4 linked regions of the Homo sapiens genome follow. The protein of the gene in region 2 purifies or fractionates together with the protein of the main gene of each other region. This does not show direct contact. Each region holds a gene or a part of one and is shown on either strand. Other genes may lie near its edges. The genes, in order: ACKR3, ADGRG1, TMEM169 and TMEM184A.

Evidence for each region.
Region 1: the proteins of ADGRG1 (region 2) and ACKR3 purify together in Homo sapiens (co-immunoprecipitation; one large-scale study listed by IntAct). This does not show direct contact.
Region 3: the proteins of ADGRG1 (region 2) and TMEM169 purify together in Homo sapiens (co-immunoprecipitation; one large-scale study listed by IntAct). This does not show direct contact.
Region 4: the proteins of ADGRG1 (region 2) and TMEM184A purify together in Homo sapiens (co-immunoprecipitation; one large-scale study listed by IntAct). This does not show direct contact.

The regions. Positions count from the first base shown.
Region 1 is NC_000002.12:236,578,363-236,583,825, forward strand, and holds the end of ACKR3 (atypical chemokine receptor 3), read left to right. Parts: intron 1-644; exon of another isoform or gene 645-706; intron 707-2,077; 5' UTR 2,078-2,103; coding exon 2,104-3,192; 3' UTR 3,193-3,992; downstream 3,993-5,463. UniProt on the Homo sapiens protein: Atypical chemokine receptor that controls chemokine levels and localization via high-affinity chemokine binding that is uncoupled from classic ligand-driven signal transduction cascades, resulting instead in chemokine sequestration, degradation, or transcytosis.
Region 2 is NC_000016.10:57,659,611-57,664,477, reverse strand, and holds part of ADGRG1 (adhesion G-protein coupled receptor G1 isoform b precursor), read right to left. Parts: coding exon 4,797-4,867; intron 3,711-4,796; coding exon 3,602-3,710; intron 2,782-3,601; coding exon 2,513-2,781; intron 1,027-2,512; coding exon 896-1,026; 3' UTR 1-895. UniProt on the Homo sapiens protein: Adhesion G-protein coupled receptor (aGPCR) for steroid hormone 17alpha-hydroxypregnenolone (17-OH), which is involved in cell adhesion and cell-cell interactions.
Region 3 is NC_000002.12:216,099,992-216,104,607, forward strand, and holds the end of TMEM169 (transmembrane protein 169), read left to right. Parts: coding exon 1-551; 3' UTR 552-2,792; downstream 2,793-4,616.
Region 4 is NC_000007.14:1,551,822-1,558,299, forward strand, and holds the start of TMEM184A (transmembrane protein 184A), read right to left. Parts: upstream 4,385-6,478; 5' UTR 4,293-4,384; intron 3,664-4,292; coding exon 3,445-3,663; intron 1-3,444. UniProt on the Homo sapiens protein: Acts as a heparin receptor in vascular cells. May be involved in vesicle transport in exocrine cells and Sertoli cells.

The sequences.
Region 1 (5,463 bases), on a different chromosome or scaffold from region 2:
CCTCCCATGCTTGGGCATCAGGGCTTGTCATAAGTCCGTGGTCACAGGGCTTGATTCCTCCTAGTGGGTGACTCTGAGGACGGCCAGGCCTCCCGCTGCAGGACCAGCGTGGTTCCCTCCATGGAAGGCTTTCAGAGTGTGGAGGGGATGCGGCTGTCTTGGGAGGCCCAGCCCTTTCTGTCAGCCGTGGAGGACACTGAGTCAGGTTAGGTCACGAGGAGGGGACCCCACAGTCATTTACATCCCGCAGAGGGAAGTGCCCAGAAGCCCGCAACAGTCTCCGCTAAGTGGGGTTCACGCCAGGTCCTCTGCTGTGAATGTGGAGGCTGTGGAGCCGAGGCCGCGAAATTTCTCACTTTTCAGGGATTCTGTTCAAGTTGTCCCAAAGGAGAAGCCCATCAAACAACCCAGTCTCTGTGCGAGCTCCCCCGGGGGCATTTACTACTCAGCCAGTGAGAGCCAGGTTTCCAGGGGAATAGAATTAAACAAGGTTCTGCTTTTTGCTGAAGGGAAAAACCGCTCCCTTAGGTGGGAGAATCCCCAGGGTTCTTTCTTCCTGGCCAGGGAGGGAGAAGGGGGTGACGTTTTATTGAGCATCGGCTAGGGCCAAGCTCTCAATTAGGCCCTTTCTTCTTTCTTCTTAGGGTATCTGTGAGATAGGTGCTGCTGTCCTGGGGAGGTAGATGCAGACAGATTAACTCTCAAGGTAAATGCTAATGAATAGAGGAGCCAGAATCCCAACCCAGGAATGTCTGATCTCGGAGTGGGCGGCTTCCCAGCTGTGGCTTTGCATACCGCTAGCGTAGCCACCCGGACCCTGATCCCCTGACCCTTGTCCTTGATCCTCCAGGAAATTCTCATATGTAACCTGGAATCCACTTTAAATGAACTCGGTAAATAATGTCTTGACTCTAGGCCAGTCATTACCTGGGACAGGTGAGGGGGAAGGGCAACCACCTGACTATGTCACTGTCAACAGTGCATCCTTGGGCTGAGGTTTTCATTTTACAGTGGGGTTCAGGCAGGGCTAATTGCTGACCCAGGACTGTGGCCTGGAGGGATTTCAGGGCCTTCCCATGGGCGGACTGACAGTAGAAGACAGCCCCTGTCAGTCTATCTGAAGAAATCAGTGCCAGATAACAATGGTACCCCGTGGCTGAATTCTGGCTGGGAGTGAAATGGTGATGGAGTGTTGGTCTCACCTCAGGTCAGCAGGGAAAACAGTTGGGAAAATGGTCAGCCCTCCTGAAATGCAGCAGGTGGTGATTTTTGTGTTTTGAGTCTTGGCACACCTTGCTGTTGAAGCAGTTGAACAAATAAAGGAATGGAAAAACAGGTGCTGACCCAAAGCTTGAGACAGCTGGTTGGTTGCCCTTCGTTGAAAACCACACGGCCAACCCAGAGTCTTCAGGTTTGGGGCGCAGTTAAGCTGTGGGGCACCCTGCGTAGGCTCACTGTGTTTCCAGAGGCTTTATGACTGCACACTGGGGCCGCCTGAGACCCAGGTTTATATGTGAATTTAGCAGACAAGTAAAAAGTGCTGAGTCACATTATAAATGCAAATTTGGAGGAGGATTTGAAATGCTTTCATTAAGACACCAAAGCAGGACACTTGTAATACAGCAGTGCCAGGAGAGGACAACCCTGCCATTCTTTGGGGACCTAGATAAAATGGCTCCACTGTCCCCTGCTGAGAGTGAGCAGGCCATCAGCATCGCGGTGGCCGGGGCTCAGCTGCCTGACGTTTCTTTGGCCCCTGTACTGTGTTGATTTCACACACTGGGCACAGCCATGCTGGCGGTGTCTTGAGAACACAGCCATGAAAAGATGGAGAAAGCAAACACAGTTTCTGTCTTGGAGCACCACATGGATTTAGATTCAGAGTATGATTTATTTTGTTTTGGAGAGTTTTATTATGAATTTTTTTTCTCCCTTCTTTGCAAAGACATTACAGAGCTAAACCCAAACAGCTGAGCCTATCAGGGCCTTGGAAAAGCATTTTTGCCTGAAACTTGAGTTTTTCCTAATGAAGTGACTTTCCTCTTCCATCTTTTTTGTTTGCTTGGTTTTCTCATAGGTCATTTGATTGCCCGCCTCAGAACGATGGATCTGCATCTCTTCGACTACTCAGAGCCAGGGAACTTCTCGGACATCAGCTGGCCATGCAACAGCAGCGACTGCATCGTGGTGGACACGGTGATGTGTCCCAACATGCCCAACAAAAGCGTCCTGCTCTACACGCTCTCCTTCATTTACATTTTCATCTTCGTCATCGGCATGATTGCCAACTCCGTGGTGGTCTGGGTGAATATCCAGGCCAAGACCACAGGCTATGACACGCACTGCTACATCTTGAACCTGGCCATTGCCGACCTGTGGGTTGTCCTCACCATCCCAGTCTGGGTGGTCAGTCTCGTGCAGCACAACCAGTGGCCCATGGGCGAGCTCACGTGCAAAGTCACACACCTCATCTTCTCCATCAACCTCTTCGGCAGCATTTTCTTCCTCACGTGCATGAGCGTGGACCGCTACCTCTCCATCACCTACTTCACCAACACCCCCAGCAGCAGGAAGAAGATGGTACGCCGTGTCGTCTGCATCCTGGTGTGGCTGCTGGCCTTCTGCGTGTCTCTGCCTGACACCTACTACCTGAAGACCGTCACGTCTGCGTCCAACAATGAGACCTACTGCCGGTCCTTCTACCCCGAGCACAGCATCAAGGAGTGGCTGATCGGCATGGAGCTGGTCTCCGTTGTCTTGGGCTTTGCCGTTCCCTTCTCCATTATCGCTGTCTTCTACTTCCTGCTGGCCAGAGCCATCTCGGCGTCCAGTGACCAGGAGAAGCACAGCAGCCGGAAGATCATCTTCTCCTACGTGGTGGTCTTCCTTGTCTGCTGGCTGCCCTACCACGTGGCGGTGCTGCTGGACATCTTCTCCATCCTGCACTACATCCCTTTCACCTGCCGGCTGGAGCACGCCCTCTTCACGGCCCTGCATGTCACACAGTGCCTGTCGCTGGTGCACTGCTGCGTCAACCCTGTCCTCTACAGCTTCATCAATCGCAACTACAGGTACGAGCTGATGAAGGCCTTCATCTTCAAGTACTCGGCCAAAACAGGGCTCACCAAGCTCATCGATGCCTCCAGAGTCTCAGAGACGGAGTACTCTGCCTTGGAGCAGAGCACCAAATGATCTGCCCTGGAGAGGCTCTGGGACGGGTTTACTTGTTTTTGAACAGGGTGATGGGCCCTATGGTTTTCTAGAGCAAAGCAAAGTAGCTTCGGGTCTTGATGCTTGAGTAGAGTGAAGAGGGGAGCACGTGCCCCCTGCATCCATTCTCTCTTTCTCTTGATGACGCAGCTGTCATTTGGCTGTGCGTGCTGACAGTTTTGCAACAGGCAGAGCTGTGTCGCACAGCAGTGCTGTGCGTCAGAGCCAGCTGAGGACAGGCTTGCCTGGACTTCTGTAAGATAGGATTTTCTGTGTTTCCTGAATTTTTTATATGGTGATTTGTATTTAAATTTTAAGACTTTATTTTCTCACTATTGGTGTACCTTATAAATGTATTTGAAAGTTAAATATATTTTAAATATTGTTTGGGAGGCATAGTGCTGACATATATTCAGAGTGTTGTAGTTTTAAGGTTAGCGTGACTTCAGTTTTGACTAAGGATGACACTAATTGTTAGCTGTTTTGAAATTATATATATATAAATATATATAAATATATAAATATATGCCAGTCTTGGCTGAAATGTTTTATTTACCATAGTTTTATATCTGTGTGGTGTTTTGTACCGGCACGGGATATGGAACGAAAACTGCTTTGTAATGCAGTTTGTGACATTAATAGTATTGTAAAGTTACATTTTAAAATAAACAAAAAACTGTTCTGGACTGCAAATCTGCACACACAACGAACAGTTGCATTTCAGAGAGTTCTCTCAATTTGTAAGTTATTTTTTTTTAATAAAGATTTTTGTTTCCTAAAAATGCATCAAGTCTCAGTTTTCAAAGTGTGTTTTGGCACTTGAATAGCACACATGATAATAATTCATGGATATATATGGCACACACAGGCCACCTGCATGAACATGCTCAGAAAAAGAGTGCTGCTGTAAAGCAAAAGCTACCAGGTTAACTTGTTTGAAATGATATAAAAAGAAAAAATCATTTGAGCACACTGCATGGTTTTTAAAAAAATTTTCAGGCAATAGTGTTTTTGGTGTGGGGGATGATTGCTAGGGTCCAGCTAGGAGAGAAGGCTGGCACAGAGAAGGTGCCACTTGCTTCTACTTCCTGCTGGCCAGAGCCATCTCTGTTCTGAACCTGTCTGAACTCTCCGTCCAGACAGGAGAGTTTCAGGGTGCAGGACTGGTGTCCTCATCTGTACCACCTGTGTGCTTCCAGGGCCAGTGGCACAGCCCCTTAAATCTCATCTGCTAAGGTAAACACCTCCAGGGGCAATATTTCCTATTGAGAGTTTTCATTTAAACCATGCCAATCAGCTACCCCCTTGAGGCCACACAATGAGCGAATCCCCAGCTTGCGCATGTCCTTACTAGTGGTTGGAAAGAGTGCTCTCAGAATGGCCAGTTCCTGCTGTGCCCTCTCTAACTCTACCTGGAGCCACAAGAATGGCGGAGACTTCAACAGACGAGTCAGCTGGGCAGGGGCTCAGAGAGGGGCTGGGCTCCCAGCACTGCCCTCACCACCTCCACCTCTGCCAAGACCTCTCTGCACAGAGAGCTGTTTGCCAACCCAAAGGCAGACCCAGATGCTCGTCTGACCTGTGGGCTTGGGCGCTGCTGCTAGGTTGGAAAGCACCTTGTGCAAGTCCTTGCCCCACAGACCCACAATGGGCAGCCCTGCAGTCCCCAGGGGCCCATAGACCGAGTGCACTACAGGGGAATCCTATTTCCTGCAAAGGTCTTCACAGCTTAGAGTTTTGAAACTAGGGCTGTAACTTACTGGAAATATGTTCTTGATACACATGTACATCCTCAGGTGCATATATACACCTGGTCTTCAGTGGGATTCTGGTCCGATAACAATGATGTAGATAGTGGGATAACAGCATACAAGAGGCAAAGATACCAAGAAGAAGGGAAAATAAGAGTAGGTAGGATGGCAACATGGAATCGGGAAAGTTCTCGACCCAAATATGTGTTCCTTGACGATAAAAATGGCTTGCATGTTTGCTGTGAGCCTTCTAGGGGTCAAGTTCAGGCAGAAATACACTTTTCCAGTAGTAAATTCAAAATGGGGAGGGGGAGGAGGGCATCAATTGCAGTCCACATGCTCAGCCTTGCAATAGATGGGCGGTAAAAGGCATTCAACTGAACTGCTATGCTGAATTGCCATCGCGGTCCATCCAGCGGTCTCTCCCACCCGCTTACCCTAGAATTTCAGTAGGTTCCCGGGGGCTAACAGTGCTGGGGTGGGTGAGGGTCTTTCAGGCTTG
Region 2 (4,867 bases):
GCTGAGGGCCCCTCTGAGGCGTGTGCTTGGTCAGGGTGAGCAAGGGCAATGCAGCTCATACAAAGGCCCAGATGGACAGAGGGACCTAGCCCAGCCCACGCATCGGTACCGAGCCTGGCTCAGGGGCAGGCCGAGGCTTGTGCAGTAGACAAACATTTACAGCAGACACCAGGCAGCTCCTGGAAACCACTCCCCAAAAAACAGCATTGGAATCGGGGACCCCCAGCTGTGAACGAAGGAGCAAGGAGGCCCTGGGAGAGGAGGAGAACCCCAGGGAAGATGGAGGGAGGACTGGGGGGCTGAGGGAGGGAGGGGGCCTGGGCTCAGAGGTAGGCGAGCTGCTGCTGTGCTCCTGGCAAAGGGCCTCTCCTCCGCCAGGGCTCTGGCCCTGAAGGTCTGCCCTGGGCCCCATTCGCCCTGGGTGCCACCTGAGGTTAAAATGACAGAGGATGCAGAGTGCCCTCAGGGTGACCACGAGAGACAGAGCAACTGGAGCCACATTTCTGTCCCAGGCAGGGGCACAGGATTAAGGATGTGCCAGACCCTCAAGATCCAAGGCCTGGCCCCCAGCAATGAGGGCTGGGCCCAGGGGTTGTAAGGAGAGACCAGGCCTCCAGCTGGGTTGGGACAGATGTGGGGACAGTACCCTAGGCAGCATGGCGGCGCACTTCTGAGTCCCGTGGGAGCTGAGTGAGAGCCGAGTAGTCCCCAAGGCCAATTCAAAAGCCCAGCCCGGGAGTCCGTCCACCATGGCAACGGCCCATCTCTCCATGGTCGTTGGGCTTTCCAAAGTCTGCGGCTGACTGGCCTGGGGCTGGGCCGGGCTCGGGGGCCACAGGCAGTGTGCGACGAGGCCGAATCTCTGCTTCATCACATGGGCAGGTGGGCTGGAGGCCTAGATGCGGCTGGACGAGGTGCTGCCCGAGCTGATGGGGAGCCTGGCGCTGTCTGAGTTGCTCTTCAGAGGGGAGGGGCCACCCCGGGCCTGCAGCCGCATGGACCAGTACCAGATGAAGATGAGGAAGCCTGCGGGCAGTGAGGGCACGGGGTCAGCAGGTGGGGGAGCCCCACCCCATCCCTCCTCCTCCCTCCCCAGCCATTGTGACTCGGGTCTGCCCCACCTCTCCATAGTGTTTGCCAAGCACGTGCTGTCGGGCACCCATGAGACCCAGCGAGCACCTCCTATGAGCCGGGCACTGTGCTGCGTCCCCGTGTGGCCTCTCACTGTCACAAACTTCCTAGGCCCATCCTATTCATTACTATTCTCTTTTGTAAACAAGGAAACTGAGGCCCAGGAGGCTCAGGTAAAGGGACGTGGCTGAGCCAGGGCTCAAACTGTGGTGAACAGGCTCTGAAGTCCACCCACTTAAGCACTGTGAGATTTTGCACCCCTCAAATTAATAGCACTATGATGTATCCACAGCTTAGTAAATGTCTGTGTGAATGTATGGGCCTCACTTACAATCCTGAGTCCCCTCATCTCACAGGCAGGAATGAAGGCTTGAATGTTAAATAACCGAAATGTGGTAACATCTCCCCACCACCAACTCCCAGCTCCCATTCTAGGGTGACCCTGTATGGGAGGCTGGCCTTGAACCCCATGAGAGCCCCTGGGCCTGGCCATACAACCCCCTTCCATTCTGCACGGCCAGGAACAGAGGGGTGTGCATGCCTGTGTGTGCACCTCAATGTACACACACAGGTACATGCACAGAAAGGGACCCTGTTGGCATCAAGCCAGAGCCATCATGACCCTGCCCTGGGATCCCACCTCTCCGCCCCGACCCGCCGCCATCTGGCCACGCTCTCCCTCACTGTCCTTCCTACACACAACCGGTTCCAACCTCAGGATCTTTGTTCTTGCCTCTCCCTCTGCCTGGAGCTTCCTTCCCCTAGACCAGGGCTCCTGATCCTATCATGTGCACGTGACCCCTTGGGCATTTGTGAAAATGCAGATTCTGATGTGGCAGGGCCCGGGTGGCCCAGAGGCTGCGTTTCCAAAAAGCTCCTAACAACGCTGCTGCTGCTGGTCTGTGGACCGCGCCTGGAGTAGGGAGGCCCCCCCATCTCTCCATGGGGGGATCCTTCTCTTGTCTTCACACGTCTCATATCCAGAGAGGCCTCCCTGGCCACCCTTCTTAGGGTGTCCCCCACCCCAGCCGAGGCCCTGTGCAGCACGTGCTCACGACGATGTCCCTACTATCTGGGACCACCTTTGATGGCTATATGCTTGCCTGCTCATGCGCAGTCTTCCCCAGTAGAGCTGAGTTCCAAAAGAACAAGGCCCACACCCAACCAGCTCAGCCATAAGCCCTGTGGCTTAACACAGGGCCTGCACATAGTAGGTGCTCAATCAAGACTTGTTGACTGTGGCCTGGATGTCCCCATTTTATGAATGGGATGACTGAGGCCCAGAGAAGGGAAGTCTTCAGGTTCCCTGGGTGATCTCTTCCCTGCCCTTGCTCCATGTGTAGACACCCTGCCTGGGCCAAGGGACGGGTCTTCTCCTTACCTTGGAAGGAGGTGATGATGCTGAAAAGGTAGAGGACGACAAGCTGGAAGGTGCCAGAAGCAAAGGAGAAGAAGATCAAGGCCCAGGGCAGGCCAAGGACCAGGCTGAGGCCCAGCAGTGTCAGCACATGTGACCACTTTTGGGTGTGGGGGCGCAGCCGCAGGATCTGCACCACCATGGTGGCTAGCATGGCCATGTTGAACAGAAACACCAGGCTGAAGAGGCCCAGGTTGGTGATGTAGCTGACCAGGGAGTCCCGGATCCAGCACCTGCGGGCAAAGGCAGGAGGGCTCAGCGTGTGGCCAGCACGGGCAGCATTTCCTGGGCTGTGGTTGTCATGTTTGTTTTCAGGATTATCCACTGTTTACAGCAAGTGCGCTTGTTTTCTATTTACAGTGTTGATGTAATTTTAAAAATACATTTGAGTTAACAAGTCAGATTGTTTAAAGGAAAATGTTAAGTAAGTAATAATATAGATAGTACAAAAGTGAGGCAGAAATCACTGGGTCACAACATAAAGAGCTGAAAATTTCAAAACCACTGAGCCAATGGGAAGGATTCCTTCCCAGGCTGGAGCTCAGGAACCCTGGCTTCCGGTTTGGGTTCAGGGGATCCACAGGCAGGGCCGCTGCCAGCCTGGGTGAATCAGGTGAGTGGAGAAGGACTGGACTTCAACCCCACTCATCCTCTGCCTCCGAACAGCACACCAGCCCTCAGTGTGGCCAAGAGCGGATCTCTTCCCTCCCTGAGCCTCTGTCTTCCCATCTGCATGGGGAGACAGAGAGGTGCTGCTGAGGAATGTGGTGAGGCTCATCTGCTCCAACCCATACCCCCATTCATGCATGAGGAAACCGAGGCTCAGAGAAGGGCCGGGGCCTGTGCAAGGTCACCTGGTGAGTGAGTGGTAGATCCAGGCCTTTTCTCACCCTCCATGACTCTTAGACCAGTGCTTCAGCCACTGCCAGGCCAATTCCTCGAGGAGACTGGAACCCAGGTGTCCCCTGGCCAGCATGACCTGGGCCCGGGCTGCACTCTGGCCTCTGTGCCCAGAGACCCACCTTCTTGCCCCCATTGCACACAGCCACTCACATGGAAGGGTAGATGACGCCCTCTGGAGTCCTATGCACAGCCAAGATGATGGGGCCATAGTTGTCCACATCCACCAGGGCCACCAGCGTCACCAGAAAGATGGGGAAGCCTGAGGGTGGCAATGCATGTTGCTCTACTTCCCGCTCTCTGAGGCCTGCCCATTCCCTGCTGGCCTCAGGGAGTCTGGAGGGCAAGGGCCCCTCTGAAGTTTGGGCTCCTGAAGCCCACCCAGCCCCATCTGGTGGGGAAGTTCCCCCAAGTTTGGACCCTCCCCCTCCCCATTCCAGTATGGGTTTCCTATAAGGGGATGCCATCTCCTCCAACCTTAGCCCTGCCCTTCGTCACCCTGGGGGCCCCTGGGAGAAAGGCCTGTGGGTCTCTGCTGCAGGGCTGGATGTCACAGGGGAGATGGGAGGGGCAGACAGTTTAGGAGGGACGGCAAGAGTTCTGCCATCAGGGGACGTCTGCACTGGGCCTTGACCTCGCCCGTTCGGTGGAGATTAGAAGCTCCCTAGAGGGGGCTGCCCACCTCCAAACACAAAGTCCTGACACAGAGACACCTCCAAAGGAATTTCATGCAAATGGGGGAATGGACAAAGAAGGGGCCCAATGACAAACCCGCGAAGAGCAGCAAGCTGGAGTCAGGGGCATGCGGAGGTTGAGGGGTCTGTGCAATGTCCAAACAGACTTGTGGCATCATGAGCCCCTGGGCTGTAGGTCTGACATAAGAGGGCTGGCCACAGGTGAATTGAACAGTCATTGGCCAAGAACAAAATGCCAAGCCACAGGGAATCTGTTACCCAAGGTCCAGGGGGATCCTGAGGCAGGGCCACTGCCAGCCCGAGTGAATTAAATGACTGGAGCGGGACTGGATTTCAGCCCCTCTGATCTCTGAACTGGGTGCCTTTGAGCAGTGCACAACCTGCACATTCACACACGGTGGCCCTGCTCGTAAATCCCCTTTGCAATGGAGTGAGTGATGTGGAGAATTTGGAAGTGTTTCTTGGGGACAGGGCTCACTGCTTCTTCCTAAAGGGGACCTTGATTCAGCCAAGGTGAAGGACACCTGAGGATGAGTGAAGGAGGCCAGGAGGGAAGTCAGAGAGATAGGTGGAGAGGCAGAACCAGGTGCCTGGGTTTTGCCAGAGCCAAGTGGGAGAGGCAGGTCTGAGGCACCCCCCGCCCAACCACTTACCCCAGCCCATGGCGCTCAGCTTGAGTAGGTAGCCAGGGACATAGGTGCCAAAGACCTCCACCACGAGTCGG
Region 3 (4,616 bases), on a different chromosome or scaffold from region 2:
GTCAGATGGTGGACATCCATGTCACATTGACAGAGAAAGAGCTGCAGGAACTGACCAAACCTAAAGAGTCATCAAGGGAAACGACGCCTGAAGGAAGAATGGCCTGCCAGATGGGAGCTGACCGTGGGCCCCATGTGGTCCTCTGGACGCTGATCTGCCTGCCTGTGGTTTTCATCCTTTCTTTTGTTGTCTCTTTCTACTACGGCACTATCACCTGGTACAACATCTTCCTCGTGTATAATGAGGAAAGGACCTTCTGGCACAAGATCTCGTATTGCCCTTGCCTCGTTCTCTTCTATCCAGTGCTCATCATGGCCATGGCTTCTTCCCTCGGCCTCTACGCTGCTGTGGTCCAGCTCTCGTGGTCCTGGGAAGCATGGTGGCAAGCTGCCCGGGACATGGAGAAAGGCTTCTGTGGCTGGCTCTGCAGCAAGCTGGGTCTGGAGGACTGTTCTCCCTACAGCATTGTGGAGTTGCTTGAATCCGACAATATCTCAAGCACTCTCTCCAACAAGGACCCCATCCAAGAAGTAGAAACCTCCACGGTCTAAACTCCCAACAACTTACTCCCTCCTCTGGCCCCAGTAGCCTATATATCATCTTAAAATTCCAGCAGATTATTTCTTTAAATTACCCCCTACTCTCCGCAGTTCTTCTGGGAAATCAGAGTCCATACTGATCAGTTTTACCATCTTGAGGGTTCCAGGAGGGCATGGAGCAGACAAGCAATTGTGCCAAAGCAGTTCACCCAATGGACAAACTCTTTTTGATTCCCTGCCCTAAAATCACCATTTATTTAGGACAATGGAACTCTGCTGTGTGTCGTTTTGGGAGCCTGGAAGTGTTACTGGTGCCTGGAACTGAGGGGAGTATGTGACTAAATGTGTCAGGGAGAATAAAGAACCTCGGGGTAACCAAATCCACCAAGATAATAGACAGGGATGGAGTGAGACATTTAGGAAGCTGGACTACCACAGTGTAGCAGAAGGTAAAGATTTGTGTGTATCATTTAGATTTAGATTTAGCTGCATAGAATTAAAACCCTAAAATATCAGTGGCTTAAACAAGATAGAAGTGTATTTCTTTCTTGTGCAGAAGAAGTCTGGAGGCAGACCATCCTGGGACCCTGTGAAGTAATCCAGGTCCCAGGCTTCTTCTATTTCTCTACCATTAGTAGGATGTGACCCTTCTCACCCTTATCCCCAACATCCCAGTGCTGATTACATCTTCAGCCATCACATCCATGTTTCTGATAAAATAGAGGAAAGGGCAGAGAAGCACACACCCTTCCTGTTCAAGGAGACTTCCCAGAAGTCCCACTCGATTCTTCTTATATCTCATTGGCAAGACCTCAGTCACATGATGTCATGAGCAAAAGAGGCTGGAAATGTAGTTGTTTGGCTGGGTAGCTATATTCTCAGCTAAATACTGGGTTCACGCTAATTGGCAAGAAAAAGGAAGAATGGTTATTTGGGTTTTGTTTTGTTTTGTTTTGTTTCGCTTTAGAGACGGAGTCTCACTCTGTTGCCGAGGCTGGAGTGCAGTGGCACTATCTCGGCTCACTGCAACCTTCGCCTCCTGGGTTCAAGCAATTCTTGTGCCTTGGCCTCCCCAGTAGCTGGGATTACAGGTGCGTGCCACCATACCCGGCTAATTTTTGTATTTTTTTTTTAGTAGAGATGGGGTTTCACCATGTGCCCAGGCTGGTCTTGAACTCCTGACCTCAGGTGATCCGCCTGCCTCGGCCTCCCAAAATGCTGGGATTGTAGGCAAGAATGGTTATCTTGGTAGGCAAGTCAGAATCTTTGCCTCACAATGATCATTTAAATACATTCAGAACCCCCAAACTGCTAATATGGTTTTATTTATTTATTTATTCATTCATTTGTTTATTCATTTATTTATTTAGGCCTGAATCTTACACAGAGAATTTATATATAGATATTAGCTACATATACTTTGAATATGCTATACATCGATATTAGCACCTCACGTACTTTGCAATTAAGCTTCTGTAATGTCATGTGATTTGTTTTTGGAAAGGAATAGTGGACAGGAGAGTACAATTTATAATAGTAGCATAACTCTTTGTCCTGGTGGTGGAGGTGGGACGAGGTGGTGATATTTAACCTAGATTAAAGACCAGGAAGGGAGGAATTGCATCTGCCAAAGTTTCCTCCAACAGCGATCAGTAGCCCTAAGTACAAAGAAGCCAGATTTAGCCTTCTGTTGTTTGGCAAAACCTCACTCAGAGCTTTACTCCCTCAGACCTTTCTGAGTTTAACCACAGACATGATCTTTGCTGTGCTGAGAAACTTGTGTCTACCTGGCCTGTAGGGAGTGTAAACTAGATTAATACAGATTAACAGACTCTGAACTTAAAAAAAAAAATCACTCCTAAGGGTGTCCTTCTAATTTCAAAATATCAACTCCTAAGAGGTCAGCAGAATTTGGAGATTTGGGTCCTTATAAGAATAGCTGGTGCTCTTTTCTTGTTCATGTCTCAAAACAAAGCTGTTGAGAGAACTGCTGCGATGAATCAAACCAGAGGAGTTTGTCATGCTCCCCACAGAGAGCCCAGGACATTTGCCTGATGTATGGTGCTGAGCTCCACCTTCAGAGGAACTCTCTCTTTTTTTTTTTTTTAAATAACTATTATTAGCTTGACAAGAAAAAAAAAGTGCCCAACAGTTTTAGTGTTAATCTTGGTGCTCTATGGTGCATTAGCAGAGATATGAACAATTAAATGAAGACAAAGAAAATAAAAATAAAGTCTGATTAACTTTTGCTCATTTTGTCTTTGAGGCTCTTCAAAATTGCTTTGAATGCTATGGTTTGCAGAAAAAGGGTGAGCATGATGGCTGTCCTATATGTATGTAATGATTTTAATATGAATCCTTGTGTCTGGACTCTTTCCATGCTTCACTAATTTTGGGGAATTCTATTTAGGTGGACTGTTTTCACAAACCACACTAGAAACTTGCAACCACATTTGTCCCATTTTTCTGGGGTTGGGGAAACCAATGGGAAAAGCCAAAAAGTTGTGATTAGGACACAGGTAAAGTGGCTGTGGTGCCATGGAAGAGTGTGGGATGATGATGAGATCATACCCAAGAGATACCTAGATAAAGTTGACATGGCCTTCATCCTAGTTGGGCTCATCATCTAGTGGAAGAAATAGGCTTGTAAATTAAAACCATTTCAAAGGGGTTCTATAGAGGTATGTAAAAGCCTAGACTAGAGGAAGGAAAAACAGAACCAAACAGAACCAAAGCATCTCATTTTTGCTCTCAGCAAACACCACAGAGACCATCAGAGGAGAAACTGGAGAGTTCAATACCATATTTGAACAATTCTTTTGGCTCATAGTTGCCTAATCATCGTGGTGAATATCAAGGAAGATGACTATATTTTCCAGTTGCTTAGCAGCCATAATGTGCTGAGCTGGATAAACCATGTCTGGCCCATAGGGTGACACTGATGTGTTTCCAAGTCATCTTGTCTATTGACATTAGGTAGCACCCTTCATTTCACTTCACATCCAAGAAGAATAAAACCCATGATTTTCTATAAAACAAGATTCTAAATCTTAAAAATAACCAATTTCAGATGATGTGAAAGTTTCATTCTGCCATTTTGGAATGGCCACCCAGAGCTTAATTTGTGCAGTGTTGAAAAATATTAGTGGACATCTTACTACTCACATCTGTTTGGGATATAAACTTTTTTTTTTGAGATGGAGTTTCGCTCTTGTCGCCCAAGCTGGAGTGCAATGGTGCAATCTCCGCTCACTGTAACCTCCGCTTCCTGGGTTCAAGTGATTCTCCAGCAGCTGGGATTACAGATGCGCCACCACCATGCCTGGCTAATTTTTGTATTTTTAGTAGAGATGAGGTTTCACCATGTTGGCCAGGATGGTCTCGATCTCTTGACCTCAGGTGATCCACCCGCCTCAGCCTCCCAAAGTGCTGGGATTACAGGCATGAGCCACCAAGCCCAGCCAGGACATAAACTTTTATTTCATATCTGTACTCTGTTAATATTCTACTTATTTTCTCAGTTACCCATATAACCATTGTAACAGCTCTCTGTCAGAACACAAAGCCTGTATATTTTAATTTTTATAGTGGTCAGGAAGTCATTACTCATAGTTCACGTTCAAGGTAATACCAAATGCAAACATATTCCAGCAACTTAAATTATAATTACAAAATAAAATTTTTATTTGCCTTTATTAACTACCTGAAGGGGAACACATGGTCTACATTGTAGCAATAGTTCAAAAAAATCTCTGCTGTTTCAGTTATCTATTGCTGCTGTAACATCTAAAACACAATGGCTTAAAATAACAGCTTGGTGTGCACCTATGGTCCCAGCCCCTCGGGAGGCTGAGGTGGAAGGATGGCTTGAGCCCGGGAGGTGGAGGTTGCAATGAGCTAAGATAGCGCTACTACACTCCAGCCTGGGTGACAGAGTGAGATCCTCTCTCAAAACAAAAGCAAAACCAAATAAACCCCACCAAAATAGTCACTCAATTCCTTTGCTCACAGTTTTGCAATTTGTGCAGAGCTTGGTGGAGACTACTAGTCTGCTCAATGTTTCTAGTGCTGAGATAG
Region 4 (6,478 bases), on a different chromosome or scaffold from region 2:
AGCTACTAGAGAGGCTGAGGCAGGAGAATCGCTTGAGCCTGGGAGGTGGAGGTTGCGGTGAACCAAGATTGCGCCACTGCACTCCAGCCTGGGCGACAGAGCGAGACCCTTTCTCAAAAAAAAAAAAATATTTTTTTGAGAAACATGGTCTCGCTCTCTTGCCCAGGTTTTTTTTGAGACAGGGTCTCGCTCTGTCGCCCAGACTGGAGTGCAGTGGTACAATCATGGCTCACTGCAGCCTTGAACTCCCGGGCTCGAGTGATCTGCCTACCTCAGCCTGCTGAGTATTGGGACTACAGGTGTGCACCACCTTGCCTGGCTAATTTTTGTATTTTTTGTACAGACAGGGTCTCACTGTGTTGCCCAGGCTGGTCTCAAAGTCCTAGGCTCAAGGGATCCTCCTGCCTCCGTCTCCCAAAGTGCTGGGACTATAGTCATGAGCCACTGCACCTGGCCTAAAATTTATTTTTTAAATTGGCAAATCAAAATTGTATGCATTTACAGTGTGCAGCGCGATGTCTGATATGTGTGTTCGTGGGGAATGGCTGAGTCAAACCCATTAACGTCTCCATTATCTCCCATACTTAGCATTTCTTTGCGGGGAGGACATGTAAAATGTACTCTCTTGGCAATTTTCAAGCATAGAATACATTGTTATTTATAACAGTCACCATGTTGTACAATAGGTTTTTTTTTTTTTTTTTTCTGAATAAGTTCCTTGGGCATGAGTGAGGGTCCTGTTTGTTCTTAGCCTGGGAATGGGAACGCTCACTCATTCCTTCATTCAGCAGGCGTTTCTAGAGCCCAGCTAAGTGTCCAACCCGGGGGACGGAGAGGGGACACGTCCCGGTCCTGGGCTGGGCAGACTCTCAGAAGGCACATTGGCTTTTGCTGTGGGGGCATCCAAAGGATGTGCACCCTTTGATTCCTAAGAATTTGTCCCTCCCTAGGGGCCAGGCACGGTGGCCCACGCCTGTAATCTTAGCACTTTGGGAGGCCAAGGTGGGCGGATTACCTGAGCTCAGGAGTTCGAGACCGGCCTGGTCAACAGGGCGAACTCCATCTCTACTAAAAAATACAAAAATTAGCCAGGCGTGGTGGCGGGCGCCTGCAGTCCCAGCTACTCGGGAGGCTGAGGTGGGAGGATGGCTTAAATCCGGGAAGCGGAGGCTGCAGTGAGCACTGATTGTGCCACCGGACTGCAGCCTGGGTCACAGAGTGAGATCCTGCCTAAAAAAAAAGAAAGCCTGGGAAAAAGTATGGGTGATTATAGTAGTGTTTGCCTTTAAACCTTTCTAGATTTTCCACGTTTTTATTTTTTTTAATTTTTAATTATTATTTTTTTTATTGAGACGGAGTCTTGCTCTGTTGCCCAGGCTGGGGTGCAGTGGCGCAATCTCAACTCACTGCAACCTCCGCCTCCCGGGTTCAAGTGATTCTCCTGCCTCAGCCTCCTGAGTAGCTGGGATTATAGGCGCGCACCACCATGCCCGGCTAATTTTTGTATTTTTAGTAGAGACAGAGTTTCCCCATGTTGGCCAGGCTGGTCTCAAACTCTTGACCTCGGGTGATCCACCCGCCTTGGCCTCCCACAATGCTGGGATTACAGGTGTGAGACACCACGCCTGACCGATTTTCCATGTTTTCTGTGAGGATACAACTCAACTACAGGGTCTTTGAGACAGGGTCAGCCGAGCCTGGGAGCTGGGCGCACAGGGGCTCCTGGGGAAGGCCTTCTGGAGGAGGTGCATGCGTGGCGGTGGGCGAGCAGAGGCTACGTGCACCTGGCCGCTTGGGGTGCAGCTCAGGGAGTTGGGGGAGGTTGGAGGCAGGAACAGACTCTTATCAGTCACACGCTCCCCGATGGTCCCTGGGAGGGACGGCATGACCAGCCATCAGGAGACCTCTCCCGGGGCTGGCGCTGCCTGGCTGGGTGACCTTGACAAGCCACTGTCCTCTCCGGCCTCGGTCCTCCCATGTATAAAGTGAGGGGGATCCAGCCACTCTGTGTCCTGCCTGGGACTCCTCACTCAAGGGTGACTCTGGCGGTGGGCTCAGGGGTGGGACAGGGCCTGAACTCCAGCCCAAGGGGTCTCCATGAGCCCTGTCTTGACTGCGAGGCCCCATGAAGCTAAAGCCACACTACAGCCGCGCACACACAGCCGGTTCCCAGGATTACAGCGGAAAGACGGCCTCCTCCGGGAAGCCCTCTCTGATGGCCTTACAGGAAGGGCCTGCCTCGGCACTGCCTCCGCGGCTCTGCACACTCCAGGCCACACTCATACACGTCTACCGTGGGTTCTGGTTATCTGTTCACAGCTCACTGCAACCTTGAACTGGGCTCAAGCGATCCTCCCATCTCAGCCTCCCAAGTAGCTGGGACTAACAGTGCAGGCCCCCATGCCCGGCTAATAAGCAGTTAATAAACTGTCACTGAGATGCTCCCTCGGAGACTTGTGGCCACCGGTGTCCCTGCCTGCCAGTCTCCTGATGGCCCCCTGCCCCAGCTCACCTACAGATCCATTCCCTACACCAGTGCCCCGTGCACCCGGGAAGCAGCTCTGCCCTCAGCCCAGCCCTCCACAGCCTTCCTGGGCTCCCAGCACCCCCTGAAAGCCACCTCACCGCACTGGGGTCAAGGGCTCTGGACAAATCCCTGCAGCCGTGTGGCCCTCGCGGGCCTACACACGCACTCCCACCCCACCCCTGCGCACACCGCCCTGGCCTCTCTGTGTATCTGAGTCTCTCAGGAGGGTCCTGTCCCTGACTCCCTGCCCTCTCTGCCCAGCCCCTGCCCTCGGGCACCACTTCCTCCTTGCCCCTGCCTGGCCCTTCCTTGCCACAGCGCCTGGCCGCTTCTCTACCTGGGGGCTGTTCTGTTCCCACCTGGGGACTGCTCCGGGTCGGGGGCTGTGTGTGGCTTCGGGCTTGGGGAAGTTGCTTCTCGCCCATCTCCTGCACAGGAGTCCCGGTCCCTCTAACAAGCTGTGACCTTTGCTCCCCAGCTCCCTACAGAGCAAAGTCCAACCCCCTGCCAACCTCCCACCAGCCTTCTCCAGGGTGTCACGCCTCTGGAAGGAGAAGGCCCCTTCCCCTTTCCAGCTATGTGAGCCTGGGAAAGACCTCTGGTCTCTCTGAGACTCAGTCTTCTTGTCTGTGAAATGGGACCACACTGCAGACCTCAGTGAGCCGAGTGACGAGCCTGTGAAATAGCCAGGGGTGCCCGGTGGGCGCTCTGCCCTCAGCCTGGCAGAGATCTCCCCATTTTCAGGCCCAGCTCCCACATGCCACATCCTGGGGAAGCTCATCCCCTCCCCCGTGCCCTGGCCGATCCCACTTCTGACAGCGTCTATAGCAGCGGCACCCAGGGGGACCGGGCTGAGCCACGGCCACGTCCTGTGGAGACCAAGGTCCTGAAGGAGGCTCGGGGGCGGAAGGGCTTACCTGGTGGCAGGTGAGCACCAGGGCAGTCCACACGAAGATCCCCGAGACGCCTCGGGCCAGTGCGGAGGTGAGGAAGAGCCAGGGGGCCCCCTGGGAGCTGTTCCCCATGTGGTCCATCTGCGGCCCAGCTGGCACAGCCGGTGGGGGGCTGGGCTGCGGCCAGTTCGCTGACACCAGGGGGACGCCGGCTGTCTCCAGGATCCCTGAGACATTACTCATCTGCAGAGGGAGGGAGGACACACACCGGGAGGAGTGAGGGCAAAGGTACTGGCTCCCGGCAGCAGGAAGCAGCGGGGGAGGGAGGAGACAGTGAGACGGGAGCTGAGGCTGAGCCACCCACCAGGCCGCACCCCCCACACGGACACCAGCGCCAGGCCCGGCTCCCTCCCTGCTCCGAGCTCAGCCATCGAAGCTCACCCATCAACCACCTGCGACCTGAGGGTCCCACCTCAATTCCCCCTTGTAAAACCAGCTTCCAACTCCGAGTCTCAGGCTTGCAGGGAGCCTGCTTCTTAGGGGACAAAGACCGTCTTCCAGTGGGGCAGAAGAGGGGGAACCCCTGCCGCCCTGCCTGCCCGGGAGGGCTGGGGAGCGGGCGCAGACCAGCACTGCCTGCCCCGGCAGGAGGGGGTGTGCAGCCACCCTCATGGGAGGAGCCGGCCCTCACTGGCTCTGGGACCTGTCCACCCACCTGGGAGCCCGGCTTTGCTGGGGTTCTTGGCAGCCCTGGGTGCCTGTTCCATCTCCCACTAACCTGCTGGGGCCCTGAGTCCACCCTCTCCCACACTCGCAGCCCAGTCCAGCCTCCTCCTCTCCCTCTGGTCTGCGGTCACAGGGCCCAGCTCTACCTTTGCTGGCAGGAAGCACCTGGCCCAGTCCAGGGAGGCCTGGCCTCCAGGGAAGCCTAGCTGGTCATTCTCATGGCCACGTGGCCCCAACTGGAGGCCCCACTGTGGGTGCGGCAAGGCCAGGATCTGAAGGGCTGTGCCAGGCTGGGGCGGGGCGGCCAGTGCCTCACGTCCCCAGTGGCCCACCTGGGCCCCAGGCTGCAGGCCCGTCCCCTCCTGTCCCCTCCCACGGCTGACACCCTATCCTCCCGGTTGTTTGCTGGGTGGCAGCTGGCTCCCAGGAACCTGCTGGCCGCCTGGCGCCCTCACCTGCCTATGCCAGACGGCCAGGCAGCTGCCACCTGGTGGGGACACGTGGGAGAGGTCTGCGGCAGGCCAAGGAGGGCCGGGCTGCAGGAGGAGGGGTGGAGAGCTAATGGTACAGGGTTTCTCTGGGGGGTGACAGGAGTCCTGAAATGAGGTAGAGGCGGCAGGCACACAGCACTGTGGATATACTTACCGCCACCGAATCGTTCACTTAAACCTGGGTAAATTGATGTTATGTGAATTTCATCTGAATTAAAAAAAAAATCCACGCCCCAAGAGATGAGTTGAAAACATTTGTTTTCTGGGCCGGGCGTGGTGGCTCACGCCTGTCATCCCCACACTTTGGGAGGCCAAGGTGGGTGGATCACTTGAGGTCAGGAGTTCGAGACCAGCCTGGCCAACATGGTGAAACGCCGTCTCTACGAAATACGCAAAAATTAGCTAGGTGTGGCAGCGTGCACCTGTAATTCCAGATACTCAAGAGGCTGAGACAGGAGAATCGCTTGAACTCAGAAGGCGGAGGTTGCAGTAAGCTGAGATCACACCACTGCACTCCAGCCTGGGGACAGAGGGAGACTCTGTGTCCAAAAAAAAAAAAAAAAAAAAAAGGAAATATTTCTGGTTTTTGTGGATCAAGGCAGGAGAGGGGGAGTGACAGCCCAGTCCCTGGACCCTTTGGGGTCTGGCAAGGGGTTGCGGGGCCCTGAGGGTCCCTGTCACCCCCATGCAGAGGCCCCTGTGGAGAAAAAACTCACTCACCCCGGCTCCTGGGAGAGGGATGTGGGCCCTCAGCCCACCTCTTGTCCTGTTCTGGTTACGCTTGGGCTCATGCCGCTGGGGCCACCATTACCAAGTCCCGCTCCATGCCCGCAACGGATCCACACACTCCTTGTCCTTCATATCTCCTACCCTCCCACAGCCCTGAGCAACAGGGCTCAAGGGGTTGAGGCTGGAATGACTGGAGCCACTGTTCCCCTTTTATTTTTAATTAATTTATTTTTTGAGACGGAGCCTCGCTCTGTCGCCAGGCTGGAGTACAATGGCGCGATCTCGGCTCACTGCAACCTCCGCCTCCTGGGTTCAAGTGATTCTCCTGCCTCAGCCTCCCGAGTAGCTGGGATTACAGGCGCCCACCACCACACCTAGCTAATTTTTGTATTTTTAGTAAAGACGGGGTTTCACCACGTTGGCCAGGCTGGGCTTGAACTCCTGACCTCAGGTGATCTGCCCGCCTCAGCCTCCCAAAGTGCTGGGATTACAGGTTTGAGCCACCACGTCCGGCCTGTTCCCCTTTTAGAGATGGGAACGAGAGGCGCATCAACGCGTCCAGCATCCTTGAGGGGTCCGTGAGGGGCCCGGGCTGAGGCCCATCCTTCCCTGGGACACCCTGCCTGCTTTTCCCAACTCCTCCACTGACACTGTCCCTCCAGGGAGGCTCCCAGGTGGGGAACAAGCTCAGGAAGTCGTGCCCAGCTCTCAGGCCCGCCTTGCCTAACCTCCCCATCAGCGCCCACCCGGGCCCGGGCCCAGAGCCACAGCATGCACACCCTGGCTGGGCCCTCCTGGAGCCTGCCTGCTCCCCAGGCAGGGACCTTCTGGACCAACCGACCCTGCTCCCGGGTGACTCTGTCCTGCAGCCTCAGGCGTCACCTCTGGAGAGACCATCCCCGCTGTCCCATCACCCTCCTCACTGTGTGTGTGACTCCCTGTCCACCTGTCTGTGTTTGCTGCTGGTCCTCCCTCTGCAGGAGCTGCCAGAGCCTAGAGCTGTGCCCTGTCCATGCTCGGGGCACAGGGCTTGCGGGGTGGGGGCTGTCCTGCTGAGGCGGTGACCCTGTGGGCTAAGGTCTCCCTTTGGCCAGGCAGGGGTGCTGGAAGGC